2 separate regions of the Homo sapiens genome follow, and region 2 is linked to region 1. Evidence: fine-mapped expression QTL. A gene starts in region 1. The other region holds a variant in brackets. All regions are shown on one strand. Distances are from middle to middle.

Region 1 (4,395 bases):
GACAGTAATATTGCCAAACACCCAATATGCAGTAGATAAATTAGCATATGTCAGTAGCTAGGGATTATATTTGCCTAAAAGCTGTGTGTGTATGTGTGTGTGAGTGTGTGTGTTTAAACAGGGTTTCACAACTGGACATAATGGAGAAATAAAATAAAATAATGACTTGCATTTGCATTCCCTGCGTTCAAGGTGCTCGAACACACTTGGACACATTTGATTGTCATGATAATCCTGTGAGTTTGCAGGGAAGATATGAGTAGGAAAGTCTCATTAATTTCCACTAGGAGGGGGGGAATCTGGAGCCCTTGGGCTGAATTGCCCAACAATGGCCAACCACACAGTGCAGGCAGGTTAACACGGGGTTAACCTAAAGCAGGGAGACCTGGTTTTAGTCACAATGAGGACTTTAACTAAGGGTACCACCTGAGTGAGTCTCTGAGTCTGCATCTCTGTCCTTAGGATTTTTAGGGTATTTTCTAACTTTCAAGTCTATCATTTCACGTAGTTAAAAAGGGTTAACATGCATACTACATCTAGCATAATGATTCTTTAATACTTGGAAAACCATTGTCCAAAATATTTTCTTTAAGGATTCAGAAGGCCCTTTGGAAACTTGCAGATACTCAGGAAGATTATTATGTTTTAAAGCAAATTATCAGTATCCTTTGCAGGTGTAGAAGTGGTAGTTCATGAGGGTTCCAATTAATAGGGTCTCAAGAAATCAACATTTTCTGTATATTCAAGTCCCTTTTGGGAGCTGCTGCTTATCCGTGATTGGAGTTCTGTGATGATTGAGCCTCTAGCTCTTTAGTACAGGACACGAGCTCCTTCTCCAAGGCTCATCCCTTCAGAAGGCACATGGATGGCTTCCCCACACCCCCATGCTCTGTGGGGAGTGTGGGGAACAAACTGCAACTCCATCCTCTCTACACCTAAGCAACTACCCAGAGGAGGTAGAGACTGGAGAGCATATTTCTAGTTCTGACAGGTCGATCTGTACCTCTCTACCTGAATCATCAGGTGAGCAGGCTTGTGTACATACATGGGAGTGCATGCGTGCACACACACACACACACACACTCATGCCTTCTGGGCTCAAACGCCTGCATAAGCAGGAGCGACTCTTCAATTATTGGAAACTATTAATCATGTTTTCATTTGGTTTCTTCAAAGACAGCTCTTGATCCATATCCTTTCAGTCCACCTTATTCCCCACCTTCTAGCCAAAGAGTTATTTGTCCAGACAGCTCCCTCCCTTCCTTACCCTGTCCTGGCCAGAAGTCTAAAGAGGATGTCCATGGCCCATTGAAGAATTTCCCACCCCTGAAGTTGAGCTCACCTGAGGATTCACCTCATCCAACGGGGACAGGCTTGAACAGTGGAGAGGGAGGACAGAGCTGCCACCTCTGCAGCCCCTCGCCAGTCCCAACCTGGATGGCTTTTGCCTCGATTGACTTCGTAAAATGCCATTTGTAGGGCTTGGCTCTGGGGATGGCACAGACAGACACACACACGCACACATACACGTTGCCACACACAGACACCTACACCCCATGCAGGGATGCCAGATGACAGAACAGAAAAGGCCTCCCTTTCATCCAGCAGCCTTCTGACTCCAGAGGAGAGTCTCCGAGCCACGACCTGCTGTTTCCCTGGCAACTCAGGCCTCAAAATAAACAGGATTCTGCTCAGACGGGCCAGAAGTCCATTCGGCTCACACATTTGCCCCAAGACAAACCACGTTAAAATAACACCCAGGGTAGCTGCTGCCACCGTCTTCTGTCTCTACCTCCCTCCTGGCTGGCCAATGGCTCTGTGTTCCTGGGCCTGCTGCTGGCTGTCCAGAGTAGGGGTTGCTTAGAGCTGTGTGCATCCCTGCGGGTGGTGTGGGAGTGGGCGGTTGTCTAAAGGCAGGTCCCCTCTACTGATAAACAAGGACCGGAGATAGACCTAGAGGCTGACATTCTTGGCTCCCCCAGCCTACACCCCCCCCACCTCGATTTCCCACAGAGCCCTAGGGACGGGTAGCCAGCTCTGTGGCATGGTATCTGGAGGCAGGCCAGCAACCTGATGTGCATGCCACGGCCCGTCCCTCTCCCCACTCAGAGCTGCAGTAGCCTGGAGGTTCAGAGAGCCGGGCTACTCTGAGAAGAAGACACCAAGTGGATTCTGCTTCCCCTGGGACAGCACTGAGCGAGTGTGGAGAGAGGTACAGCCCTCGGCCTACAAGCTCTTTAGGTAAGAATCAGGGCATCTGATCTGGGAAACAGAGCAGGTTATAGCTGAGGTTGTGTGTGTGTGTGTGTGTGTGTGTGTGTGTTTTGTGTGTGTGTCCAAGTGCAAATGTAATGCTACTTGGAGAAGAAAGAAAATGTTTCAAGCAGATAGCACTGGAACCAGGACTCCTGCAAGTGAATCTCAAGAAGCTCACCTTTGGCTGGGTTTAAACCATGGTGCAGACTGCTCTGGGGGAAGGGCATGCTGATGTCACAGACATGTAAAAATAGTACTTCTAGTTTAGAGACTGCAAAAATATGAATGCACCATGCCGCCACATTATCTCCATTCCTCCAGTGCCCGCCTGACACTGGCCCTGAATCAGGGCTGGAGGGGGCAGGCATTTCTCATTTACTAAAGTGCTGGATGCAGCCCTTGAGGTTCGGCAGAAGCAGAAAGCTGCGGTGAGTCTGGCTGTGGTGAGTGTGGCTAGCATTATCGTGCTGTGTCACACTAGCTCTCTCTTGGGAAGCCTGGATATTCAGCTGCCTTGGAAAAGCTGTCCACATGGTGGGCAGCTTAGATTTTATTAACCTTTTGATATAGAAGTCAGGCTGAAGTTTAGGATTATCTGGGTGTGTCAGCTCAGGGTTTTGGTAGGGTGGTATTCCCATGGCCCCATGGTCACTCGGATTACTTCTTTCCTTCCTTTCTGATCTTGGAATATCACATCCTCGTTTCAGTACCCCTCCGATGGGCACTAGGAAAGAAGGAGTCAGAATGGACAGAGTCTCTGGCACATACACTATCCACACCCACATCACAATTACATGCCAAAGGTATGCAAGGCTGCTGCAGAGGAGCACTTCAGAAATGCAGCCCTCCAGATACTGAGATGGAAATTTCAGGCATTTAATCAAGTACGCACTTTTCAGAGACCCAAGGGAGGCCCAAGGGCTCACTCTGCCTCAGCAGAATTCAAACACTCCATTATTCTCTAGCTATGTTACATCCACCCACCACCCCACCACCCCCGCTTGCCTCCCTCCTTTCTGCACTGGTGACTGGCACTTTTCCTTTCATTCTCTACAGGGATGCGATTGTTTACGAGTTAGCTCCCCGACCCAGTGGGAGGACTTGAGCATCCCGGCTGAGGGCGAGCCAGGCTGCCCCTCCACCAGCTCTGTGTAACAGTGAGCCAGCAGCAGTGGCATCAGGGCTGAAAGGAGTGGGCCTCGCTTTGGGAAGTGATGTCTAGTGAAGGGTGGCCAGCAGTTTACTGGAGCTGTTTGTCAGTGTGGATGACTGAGGATTTTGGTGGAGACTCTGATTCACAGTCGCAAATTCCCTTTTCCTTTGTTTTCTTTGTGTTGGTCTTTGAGGGCTTCCGAGGAAAGTCCCCTCTTGAGATGTTGATCTGAAGGCAAGATCAACAATTTGCTGTTGGCAGAGGGACTCAGAGAGACTTTCTTCTGTTGCCCCTGCCTTTGTTAGTGTGAATAAATGGGTTTGCAAATGAAGTATGTAATCCAAAGCAAACTTAGTATGCAAAACTTTAAGAGAAAACACAATGAGTTTCTTTTAAATTCTCTCTCAAATCTGCTGTTTACATATGACTTGACTAGTTCTGCAAAGGATCAAGGAAGCCATATCTGGTTAAGTGGTTTGACTTTACAGGTGAGTAGCACCAGCCATGATGATAACATTCAGTGGAGATGGTGGGCGGACATCCATATGCCGTATCTACATTGAAGGGACATCTCATCTTGGGACAGTGCAGCCACTCACTTAGGTGACATGCATTCTGTGAACTACACATAAACTATTAGGATCTTGGGACTGCTGTTACAGGAAAGAGATCCAGACCCCAAGAGAGGGTTCTTGGATCTCAAGCAAGAAAGAAGTCAGGGCGAGTCCGCAGTGCAAAGCAAAAGCACTTTCTTTTTATTAAGAAAGTAAAGTGGTGAAAGCACAGCTGCTCCACTGACAGAGTAGGGTGTTCCCAAAAGTAAGAGGAGGAACACATCCATCCTAGGTACCATGCTCGTATATATAGGATTTTAAAAAGATCATGGGGAGATGTGCTCTGCTACAAGGGTTTGTGATAAAGGATAAAGGATTAATTTTCTTTTCCTTTTTTTTTTTTTTTTTTTTTTGAGACAGAGTTTCACTCTT
Region 2 (4,395 bases), 65 kb after region 1:
GCTGGAGAAATCACTTGAACCCGGGAGGTGGAGGTTGCAGTGAGCAGAGATCGCACCACTGCACTTCAGCCTGGGCGACAGAACGAGACTCTGTCTCAAAAAAAAAAAAAAAGTGTCAAAAGGGTACACAGCTGGTGATAGTCAAGCTAATATCTATCGAATGCTTACAAGTTCTCAAGTGCTGAGATTACAGTGACTCTGTTCAGTAGCTACTGTTATGCAGCCCCATTTTGCAGATGAGGAAACTGGGGCACTGTGAGAATGAGTCATTTACTAGTGAGTGTCCAACCAGGATTCAAACCCAAGTTTAGCAGTATGCTGGGTAAACCAGCTATCAGAGGGGAAAAAAAAGGAGAATTTTAAAAGCCCTGGCATTTGCCAATTTCTATGATATAAATACTCTCACCAGGGTTGATTTCAAGATATTAATGGTTTAATAATAGTAAAATTCCTGAATATTTAATAATTGGCTTTCATGAGCTTCTGGGAGCTGTCTCCTGCACACCATTGTCAAGTCCATCCCATAGTCAAGTCCACAGTTTACTGTCAACCACGGAAGATGAGATTTCAGCTCATGGAACAGAACTGGTTTGGGGGCAGCATGCTGAGATGCTAGCCCAGGCCAATCAGCCATGGCTACACTCCTACCTCAGACCCAGTACAGACCATGGAACATGGAGCAAAAGAAATAGAAAGCAAAGAACACACTGCCTCCCTTTCTTCGGCAAACTTTCCTTCACCAGGGAGTGGAAGGTGGGGCCCTGCCAGCCTAACACGCTGTGGCAGAAATAAAAAAAGCCTGGATGTTTTTTCCAGGCCCTACAAATATTTTTCTTGGTTAGATAAGTTCAGACTTGAGACTAAAGGAGCTGATCACTTCCTTTCTGAGATCCTTAGTTTCCATAGTATTTTCTTTAAAGAAATAAGGAAGTATTTATTACAAGATGAGGACAGGGTTTGAGCCTGCCTTTAACCAAAGGTAGGGTATTCTGGCCTAATTTGAACCCAATTAAAATACATTTAGACTCTTGGCTTAGCTTCTTTGTCAATACCTATAGGACATCACCTGCTAATTAGGTAGTCTGATAAGATGTTCCACAAGAGGCTCCTGAGAAAGGACTGGCCCTTCAATCAACAAGAATTCACAGGACACTAATAATGCATAGGTATTTGCTCAATGCTAGATACAGAAAGAAAAGGCATAGTTTCTGTCCCAGGGTCTCAGAGACTAATGAAGGAGTCAGTGAAGTAAACGTAGTTAAATTACATTCATTTGCCCATTCAACAGATGTTTATCAAATGCCCATCAGGTGTCAGGCATTTTGCTAGGCACTGGGATACCATTGTGAGCAAGACCAATTGGTTTGTACTATCATGGAGCTGACAGTCCAGTCATGAAAAGAGACATTAAATAATCACAAGAGTGAATGTGTAATTAAACACTGGTAGTAAGAGCCATGAAGAAATGTTAAATGGTCCTATGAGAACTGGAGGAACCTGACTCAGTTCAGGGAAGACAGGAAAGGCTTTCATGAGGAATTGAGAGTTGAACTAAAATTTGAAGAAAAATTAGGAGTTAACCAGGGGAGTAGGGTAGAGAGAAAGAGAGGAACATCACTCCAGAGGGAACAGCATGGGCAAAGGTCCTAGGGTGGGGGGAATCAGAAAATGGAAGGCAAGTTTGGAGGGAGACGTGATGGGAAATGAGGCAGAGGGGGAGTAAGGGCTGAACCTCCCAGAGTCCTGCAGGCCACAGCAAGGCTTTTGTTTTTGTCCCAGAGCAATGGGAAATCACTGAAGAGTTTAGGCAGGGGGATATAGATGGGAATTACACCCAGCGCTGCAGTGAAGTAAAGGAAATGCTGTCTGCTGTTGGGAGAGCACAGGGGAATGAACCCACCTAAACTGGTATATGTGAATTTTAAGAAAGAGTAGGGAGGTTAGGGTTGGGGGATGTGTCCAAATAAGGCTTGCTCGAGGAGGAAATATCCGAAATATCCAGCTAAATTTTTGAAGGGTGAGTGTGACTTAGTCAGACCATGGTGAAAGGGTGGAGGAAAGGAGGGAAGGAGGGAGGAAGGGAGGGAGGGAGAAAGAGAAAGAGAAAAAGAGAGAGAGAAAAAATACTGTTGGCAGCAGCACAATGTTTGGGCTAAGACCTGGGTGAGTATGAGGGTGTAGGGGGACTATAAAAAGAGGCCAATAAGAGAAAAAGTCACAGGGTTAAGAAGGGGTCAAATGATGAGAGCCTCACAGGTCATGGCAGGAGTCTGGGTTTTATCTGGAAAGACAACGGGAAATCAATGACCCAGTCAAAGATCTACAGCAGGGGAGTGATGAGTTAGAATGGTCACTAGCAGCAGAATTGACAGTGGATTGAAAGAAGGCAGTGCTGGAAAGGTGGGACCTGCTGCAGCAGCCCAGGTGAGACAGGTGCTGGGTCTGTGCTAAGGCAACAGAAGTGAGGCTGGAGAAAAGA[G/A]GATGGCTTTAGGAGACACTAAAAAGGTAAAACTGAAAGGGCATTTTCACCAACTGAACAGGTGGGAGTGATTTCTATTCTGCCCAAAGAATAGTCTGAATGAAACAAATTTTTCTATTTGGGTTGTCTTGCCTTATGACCTGGTACATGGTCAATTTTCGTAAATGCTCCATGTATCTTTGATAAGAATGATGTTCACTTCATTGTTGGGTACAAGGTTCTTTTATACACTCATCAATTAAGTTTACTAGTTGTGTATTTCAATCTTCTACATATTAATATTTGGTGTCTGTTTGCTCTATCATTTATGACAGAAATGTATTATAAAATCTCCCACCATAATTGCGGAGTTGTCACTTTCTCTTTACATATTTGTCAATTTTTGTTTTATGTATTTTGAGGCTATGTCATTAGATATATACATGTTTGGAATTTGTATATCTTTCTGTTGAATTAATCCACTTATTATGTGGCAATCCCTTTTATCTTTAGTCATTCTTTTTGCCTTAGACCTACTTTATCTGATATTAATATAGCCACACGAGTTTTCAATTTTTTTTTTTGAGACGGAGTCTTGCTCTGTCACCCAGGCTGGAGTGCAGTGGCGCGATCTCAGCTCACTGCAAGCTCCGCCTCCTGGGTTCACACCATTTTCCTCCCTCAGCCTCCCCAGCAGCTGGGACTACAGGCGCCCACCACCATGCCCAGCTAATTTTTTTGTATTTTTAGTAGAGACAGGGTTTCACTGTGTTAGCCAGGATGGTCTCGATCTCCTTACCTCGTGATCCGCCCACCTCGGCCTCCCAAAGTGGTGGGATTACAGGCGTGAGCCACCGCGCCCAGCCGAGTTTTCAATTTTTTTGTTAACATTTGTCTGGTATCTATTTTTCATTCTTTTGCTTTTAACCTCTCTATGTCATTATGTTTTAAATGTGTCTCTTGTAATCAGAGTGCAGATGGAGTTAAAAAAAAAACAGTAGCTAGTAAATTTAGCACATTTACATTTATTGTGATTATACATATATTTGGATTTATTTTGGCCACCTAATTCTGAGCAATTTTTTTACTTTATTTTCTTTTTTTCTTTTTCTAGATTATTTTGGAATAGCACAGGGTTTTGTTTTTTTTTCGTTTTTTGGTTTTTCTTGAGACGGAGTTTCGCTGTTGTTGCTCAGGCTGGAGTGCAATGCCACAATCTCAGCTCATCACAACCTCCGCCTCCCGGGTTCAAGCGATTCTCCTGCCTCAGCCTCCTGAGTAGCTGGGATTACAGGCATGCGCCACCATGCCCGGCTAATTTTGTATTTTTAGTAGAGACGGGGTTTCTCCATGTTCGTCAGGCTGGTCACGAAGATAAGCACAGTTTTATTTATTCCACCTTATCCCCCTTACGCCTACCAGTTGCCGCTTGGACTAAATACATTCTATTTCTTTTCTTTTAGTAGTTACCTTTAACATTTAACATGTATATTTGACTTAACAAAATTTAGTTAATATCTCTAAGGAAGAATTAAGATTTTGGGTGATGCCATTCATAGCCACAGGCAGCAAGGACTTAGAGCATATTTGGAACCAAAGCCAAGGCCTGTTTTGTATATGCTGGGTTTGAGGATACATCCAATTATCACCTTAGCAGGTGTCTGTCTACACATCTACCTTCAGTGGCTTTATATACTCTGCAAAATATCCTCCTTCATGGGTATTCCACATTGCTTACACAGTGACAGGGATTAAAAACAAAACTAAAGGCTGGGCGTGGTGGCTCACGCCTGTAATCCCAGCACTTTGGGAGGCTGAGGCGGGTGGATCACGAGGTCAGGAGATCGAGACCATCTTGGCTAACACGGTGAAACCCCGTCTCTACTAAAAATACAAAAAATTAGCCGGGCGCGGTGGCAGGCGCCTGTAGTCCCAGC

Alleles and levels. Alleles are on the strand shown, and positions count from the first base shown. SD is a standard deviation of normalised expression in the study named.
With allele A in place of G in region 2, the expression in fibroblasts of the gene that starts at base 2,108 in region 1 is higher (moderate effect, 0.61 SD a copy in GENCORD).

What was found. PIP is the estimated chance that this variant, and not a neighbour inherited with it, causes the effect. A credible set is the group of variants that fine-mapping cannot tell apart.
Region 2: its variant is the best candidate, but not a certain one, in a credible set for the expression of FGF1 in fibroblasts (GENCORD, PIP 0.89).

Annotation. Positions count from the first base shown.
Region 1 is chr5:142,683,803-142,688,197 of GRCh38, reverse strand. FGF1 (fibroblast growth factor 1) reads left to right here and starts at 2,108. Exons shown (of 4, transcript NM_000800.5): 1 at 2,108-2,241. RefSeq lists enhancers at 1,640-1,665, 2,765-3,634 and promoters at 1,592-2,162, 1,299-2,162.
Region 2 is chr5:142,619,065-142,623,459 of GRCh38, reverse strand. All of the region lies in intron 1 of FGF1 (fibroblast growth factor 1), which reads left to right. Among named protein-coding and RNA genes, the nearest start is that of FGF1, 65 kb to the left of the region's middle. RefSeq lists a promoter at 1,139-2,163. The variant G/A (reference allele first, on the strand shown) is at 2,480.